Regions from separate parts of the Homo sapiens genome. Here region 1 is linked to region 2. A link means that fine-mapping ties the variant in region 2 to the expression of a gene that starts in the linked region. Tissue or cell type: whole blood. Region 2 holds a variant in brackets; the other region holds the start of a gene. All regions are shown on one strand. Distances are between the middles of the regions.

The links. PIP is the estimated chance that this variant, and not a neighbour inherited with it, causes the effect.
Region 1: TTLL3 starts here. The variant in region 2 is fine-mapped to the expression of TTLL3 in whole blood (TOPMed, PIP 0.92).

What each region holds. Positions count from the first base shown.
Region 1 is chr3:9,808,844-9,811,743 of GRCh38, forward strand. It overlaps TTLL3 (tubulin tyrosine ligase like 3), which reads left to right and starts at 1,419. Exons shown (of 14, transcript NM_001387446.1): 1 at 1,419-1,551; 2 at 1,778-1,866. The coding sequence starts at 1,819. The region is part of intron 4 of ARPC4-TTLL3 (ARPC4-TTLL3 readthrough); the gene reads left to right. RefSeq lists an enhancer at 491-640 and a silencer at 1,121-1,600.
Region 2 is chr3:9,833,898-9,836,797 of GRCh38, forward strand. It overlaps ARPC4-TTLL3 (ARPC4-TTLL3 readthrough), which reads left to right. Exons shown (of 12, transcript NM_001198793.1): 12 at 784-2,459. The coding sequence ends at 924. TTLL3 (tubulin tyrosine ligase like 3) reads left to right here. Exons shown (of 14, transcript NM_001387446.1): 13 at 784-1,010; 14 at 1,197-2,468. The coding sequence ends at 1,592. Among named protein-coding and RNA genes, the nearest start is that of RPUSD3, 8.7 kb to the right of the region's middle. RefSeq lists an enhancer at 1,182-1,681. The variant G/A (reference allele first, on the strand shown) is at 1,338.

The DNA.
Region 1 (2,900 bases), 25 kb before region 2:
ACAAAGCTGGGCTCTTACCAGGACACTCTTCGACTCTGCCTGCGGGGGCACTGCTAGAGTTTGCCTCTCAAACTGTCCCTGTGTGGTCCTTCTGTGACTGGCAGGCAACCTGAGTGATAACAGGTGTTTAAGAGACAGGCTTTGGAGTCAGACCTGGGTTCCAGTGCTGCCTCTGCTCTGTGATTTGAGGCAAATTGTTTAACATCTTGGAGCCTTACCTCCCCTGTGACTTTTGAGGATAATATTTTGCCAGTGCTTCCAAAAAGGTTGCTTACAGTCTTAGCCTGGGGGCCAGGCATAACTGTTGTGAACTATTACATTTCTTTCGCAGTTGACTCAAATGATTGTTTTTCCATTTCCAGTTTCTGGGGAGGGTGTGCTCTGCACCTTCTTGTTACCCCCATATGCTGCCCTCGCTAAGGACCTTACCCTAGGCCCATCTGCCAGGCCCAGCAGGTCTGATCTGGCCTCACCAGGCTCCAGCCACCCTGGCTGTCTTGTAGTTCGCACAGAGGTTCTTACCCTTCTCAGGGCTGTTGCTGGGACTGTCCCTTCCCTGAAGTGCAGTTCCTCCCCTTTCCCTGGTGACTCCTGACTCCTGGCATTTACACCTTCAGCTTAAATGCGCCACTTTATCTAAAATGCGCCCCCTTCCTGGTTTCACCTCTGCTTGTTCATTGCCCTTATTATACCTGTAAACTATTCTCTTCCTTTGTTACTTGCTTTTTATTCCCCTCACACTGGGCTTTTAGTAAGCTCCATGAGGTCAGGGGCCATTTGTTAGCGCCTATAAATACTGTGGAATCACTCAAACCCTAGGGCCGGTGGCACCAGGAAGTACTGGATAAGGAACCGCAACACTAACTAACTGGGGCTCAGTGCTCTCTTCCGCCTTCAGTGCCCTGCTCATCAAGGGTCTGGGTGAGGCCCCAGGTCATAAGGAAGCCCTCGCTCGACTGCCCCGGGGCCCATCGCAGCCCCCAACCAGCCCCGAGCGGTCTGATGGTGCCCAGGGAATGGTTTCCAAGGCAATAGCAAACGGGGCGGGGCTTGGAACGGAGGACAAGGCTCGAGCCTAGGCAGGAACTTCCCGGGAGAGGAGGCGGCGACGCGGAGGGGCGCGGGATCAGGGGCCCTGGGAGGGCGAGCGCGGCGAGGGGCGCATGCAGGGCCCCGACGCGCCACTGCTCCTGAGCGCGAGGGAGCTGGGGCCCGGGCGCCGGGGCTCGGCCTCCTGGTACCGCCAGGAGGGCGGCGCGGTGTGCAACTGGCTGCGGAAGCCGCAGCCGCTCGAGCCACGCACCAGTTTCCCCTCGGCGCGCCGCTCCGAGTTCCGTCCACCCAGGAGGCTGCCATGGGCCGGCCCTGCCTCCGCCCAGTCCGAGGAGGGTCACGCAGGCGGCAGATGCCAGGCGGGCAGCCCCGCCCCTGCGCGCCGCCTCAGCGGCGCCTTCAAGACGCTGGTCCCAGGCACCCACGCCCAGGGCGCCTCGGATACCCACCCCCTCGGCCCCCCGCACACCCCGGTCCTCGACCCCTCTCCGCAGGATGGTGAGGCCCGTGCGGCCCGCTCGCTCTGGCCTACAGCGGCTGCGAGGACGACAAGACGCTGGGGTGGAGGGACTGGGGGTCGGGAGAAGAGCGGCTGAGGGTGGGCATCTGGATGAAGGCAGGAGGAAGAAAAGAGGCGTGGCTATGGGCGGCCAGAAAAGATCCTAGGCCGAGACCCTAGGCCCAGCCTCAGTGTACCCCGCCCCTATTCCGCATCTTTCTGCAGGTTTCCCGGTCCTCTGGCGAGGATCCTCCAAGGCGTCTCACATGAACCGGCTCAGAAACGCCAAAATCTACGTGGAGAGAGCTGTCAAGGTCAGAGGAGGGGCAGGGGCGCTTAGAAAGGGCCCTGGGAGCGGCTCAGCCTGTCTCCCTGCGCTGTTTTCTTATATCCTTAAAAAACAAAAGCAAAAGAAAAAACAATAGCAAAAATCCTCAACCACCACACCCATCTTCAACTACCTCCCCGTTTACCCCTTCAGCACCAAACTTCTGGGCTCCCTCCACTCTGGTTCCCTGCGATGTCCCACTCTAATCAAGGTGCCTGGTGAGTTCCAGGGAGCCAAACCCAGCAGTGCCTTTCGGTCTTGATCTCGGTTGGGCACCCTGTATCTTTCGACACCGCTGCCCCACACACCCTTCCTCTTGGCTGTCTGACTGCACGCTCCTAGTTTTCCTTTCTCCCTCTTTGGCTGCTGCTTTTCAGCGGCCTTTAAAGGTTCCTCAGCCATTAGTGGCCCCCTGGCCCCTTCCCCAGGTCTGTCTCCTTTGGCTGTGTCCTTGGCTGAGTCCAGTCAGTGTGCTGCACCCTCTCCGTGCCCCTTCCAGCCCAGCCTCGAACTCCACATCCCGTAGATCTAGCCCCTACCTGTCATCTACACCCAGAAAACTTAACAAGCATTTCAAATTCATGTCCCAAACCAGACTTTGATCTTCCTGCCCAAACCTGTCGTCCTCCCCAGTCTCCAGTCTTTCCCATCTCTCAGTTCCTCACGCCAGAAATCTCATCTTTCTGTTTCTTCACCCACAGGTCTAATTCCATCAGCAAAACCACTTGTCATCTCCACCTCCAAAACGATTCTCAACTCTAGCACCTTCTCCCGTCTGTGTTGTAACCACCTTCATTTTAGTAATTGTGATTTCTCTCCTAGGCAAACTATGACAGCCTCCTAGCTGGTCTACCTCCATCCTGTCCCCTCATCTTTTTGTAATACAGCAGCAAGCCAAGCTTAGAAAGATTCCCTCAGTTAGCCTTTTTTGCTCATGACACTCTTAGTATGAAATCCAAGTCCGTTCCAAGGCCTGCAGGGCCTTCCACAGTCTGGCCACTGCCTACCTCCTCTGGGGCT
Region 2 (2,900 bases):
GTCAGGAGTTCGAGACCAGCCTGGCCAACATGGTGAAACCCCATCTGTACTAAAAAATACAAAAATTAGCCGAGTGTAGGGGCAGGTGCCTATAATCCCAGCTACTTGGGAGACTGAGGCACGAGAATCGCTTGAACCCAGGAAGCGGAGGTTGCAGTGAGCCGAGATTGCACCATTGCACTCCAGCCTGGGCAACAAGAGCAAAACTCTGTCTCAAAAAAAAAAAAAAAAAAAAAACCCAGCCAAATGAGTATTGTCTCCTCCAAAGTAGTCACTCTGCCTCACAGAGTGACTTATTTCAAAGATGACCTGATTTCAAAGATGCCAGGACTTAAGCCCAGGTTGCTCTCTCCAGCGCCCACGCTTTTCCCACTGCAGTATTCTGCCTTTGCCTTCAAGCAGTCACCTCTCGGGGAAAGAACTAACACATGTCCAGCACTTAACAGTTTGCCCCATACCGCTACCTGCCCAGCTCCTTTAGTGTTTACACCAACCTAGCAAGGTAGGTGCTATTATCCCCATTTTCCAGCCGAGGTATCAGGAAGTTTAAGGAAGTTGCCCAAGGTTGCACAGCTCAGAAGGGGCACAGCTGGGATGCAGACCCAGGTCTGTTGGACTCTACCCTGTTTTCTTCTCACTGCCTCTGGAGGAGGAACCGGGAGGGCTCCGTCGGCCTTCACCCCATTCCCTCCATATCCCCCCATCCTCCACACGTACCTGTTAGGGCAGCTAGGCCACCTTGGGCCCCACCCCAGGGCCTCACAGCTTCTCTTGCTCCCACAGCCCGTCACCACTTCCCCAGCCTCCACACCAAGGCCCAGCTGCCTTCTCCCCATGTACTCCGACACCAGGGCCAGGTCCTCAGACGACAGCACAGCAAGCTGGTGGGCACTAAGGCCCTGTCGACCACAGGCAAGGCCTTGAGGACTCTACCCACGGCTAAGGTCTTCATTTCCCTCCCACCGAACCTTGATTTCAAGGTGGCACCCAGCATCCTGAAGCCAAGAAAGGTGGGCCTCGACCTGTGACTCACACCCAGTGGACAGTGCTGAGCACGGGGTCAGGGCTGGAGGGCACAGGCAGAGGGCAGCTCCCAGGCTGGCTGGCACCCCAAGGGAAGAGCTGGTCTCCCTCAGAAGCCCCTTCCTCCACAGACTTCTGATCATCTCCCTCTTCTCCCCTCCTTTCACACCGAGGCTCCTGCTCTCCTGTGCCTCCGAGGCCCCCAGCTGGAAGTGCCTTGTTGCCTCTGCCCTTTGAAGTCGGAACAATTCCTAGCACCTGTCGGAAGGTCAAGGCCAAAGGCAAATTCAAGGCCAGACTGTGACAAACCCAGG[G/A]CTGAGGCCTGCCCCATGAAGAGGCTGAGCCCCCTGAAACCCCTGCCCCTTGTTGGTACATTCCAGAGGCGCAGGGGCCTGGGGGATATGAAGCTAGGGAAGCCCCTGCTTCGATTCCCCACTGCCCTTGTCCTGGATCCAACACCAAATAAAAAGAAACAAGTGAAGTATTTGGGGCTTGACTCCATTGCTGTTGGAGGGTCAAGAGTGGATGGGGCGAGGCCGTGTACCCCAGGGTCCACAGCAAGAGCCTGAGGCCATCAGCAGCTCCTCCGTGCAGCGAGGCCCAGAATTCCCACCTAAGGACAGACATGGGGCTTCCTATTTAGGGACTCCCCCAGCATCTCCGATCCAGGGGTGGGGAGCGTGAGCCTTCACTTTACAGATGAAGAAACTGAGTCTGAAAGAGGAGGCATGGCTTACCCAAGATCACGTGGCAGTGAGTCGACGCAGGGACATATTGCCAGAACTGCCGAGCACTGGGAGCCCCCCAACCCCAGAGAACAAGCCAAGCTAGCAGAATGACACCTACCGGGCATAGGAACGTTAATGCCATGAGACAGGGGAAGGAATTGGCCTTGCCTAAACCTCAGCCCTTCTGCAGAGGGCATGGGTCTATCCCTTCTTCAGCAAGGGGCCAAGGTCACCTAAAAATGAAACATCCAATAAGCCACACCCACCTGAAGAAAAGTGTGGCACTGCTTAGTTGTAGTGGGTTGAACTGTGGTCCCCTGAAAAGAGATGTCTACTTGGACCCTGTGAATGTGACCTTATGTGGGAAAAGAGTCTTTGTAGCTGGGTATGGTGGCTCACACCTGTTATCCCAGCACTTTGAGAGGCCAAGGCAGGAGATCGCTTGAGCCCGCAAGTTCAAGACCAGTCTGGGCAACATGGTGAAACCGTTTCTACAGAAAATTAGCTGGGTGTGGTGGCACACACCTGTAGTCCTAGCTACTCGGGAGGCCTAGGTGGGAGGATTACCTGAGCCTGGGAAGATCAAAACTGTGGTGAGCTGTGATCACGCCACTGCGCTCTGAGCCTGGGAGACAGAGTGAAACCCTAAATCAAAAAAAAAAAAAAAGGTCTTTGCAGATGTAAATAAATTTAAGATCTTAAATGAGATAATCCCAATGACCAGTGTGGTGCTTACATTCAATGGCAAGTGTCTTCATAAGAAAGGATTAAGGGCCGGTGGCTCACTCCTGTAATCCTAGAATTTTGGGAAGGCTGAAGTAGGTGAATCACCTAAGGTCAGGAGTTCGAGACCAGCCTGGCCAACATGGCGAAACCCCGTCTCTACTAAAAATACAAAAATTAGCCGGGCATGGTGACATGTGCCTGTAATCCCAGCTACTCGGGAGGCTGAGGCAGGAGAATTGCTTGAACTCCAGAGGTGGGGTTGCAGTGAGCTGAGATCGCGCCACTTCACTCCAGCCTGGGCGACAGACTGAGACTCTGTCTCAAAAAAAAAAAAAAAAAGGAAAGATAAGGCTGAGGCAGGAGGGTTGCTTGAGTCCAGGAGTTGGAGGGTAGCCTGCTTGGGCAACATACTGAGACCCTGCT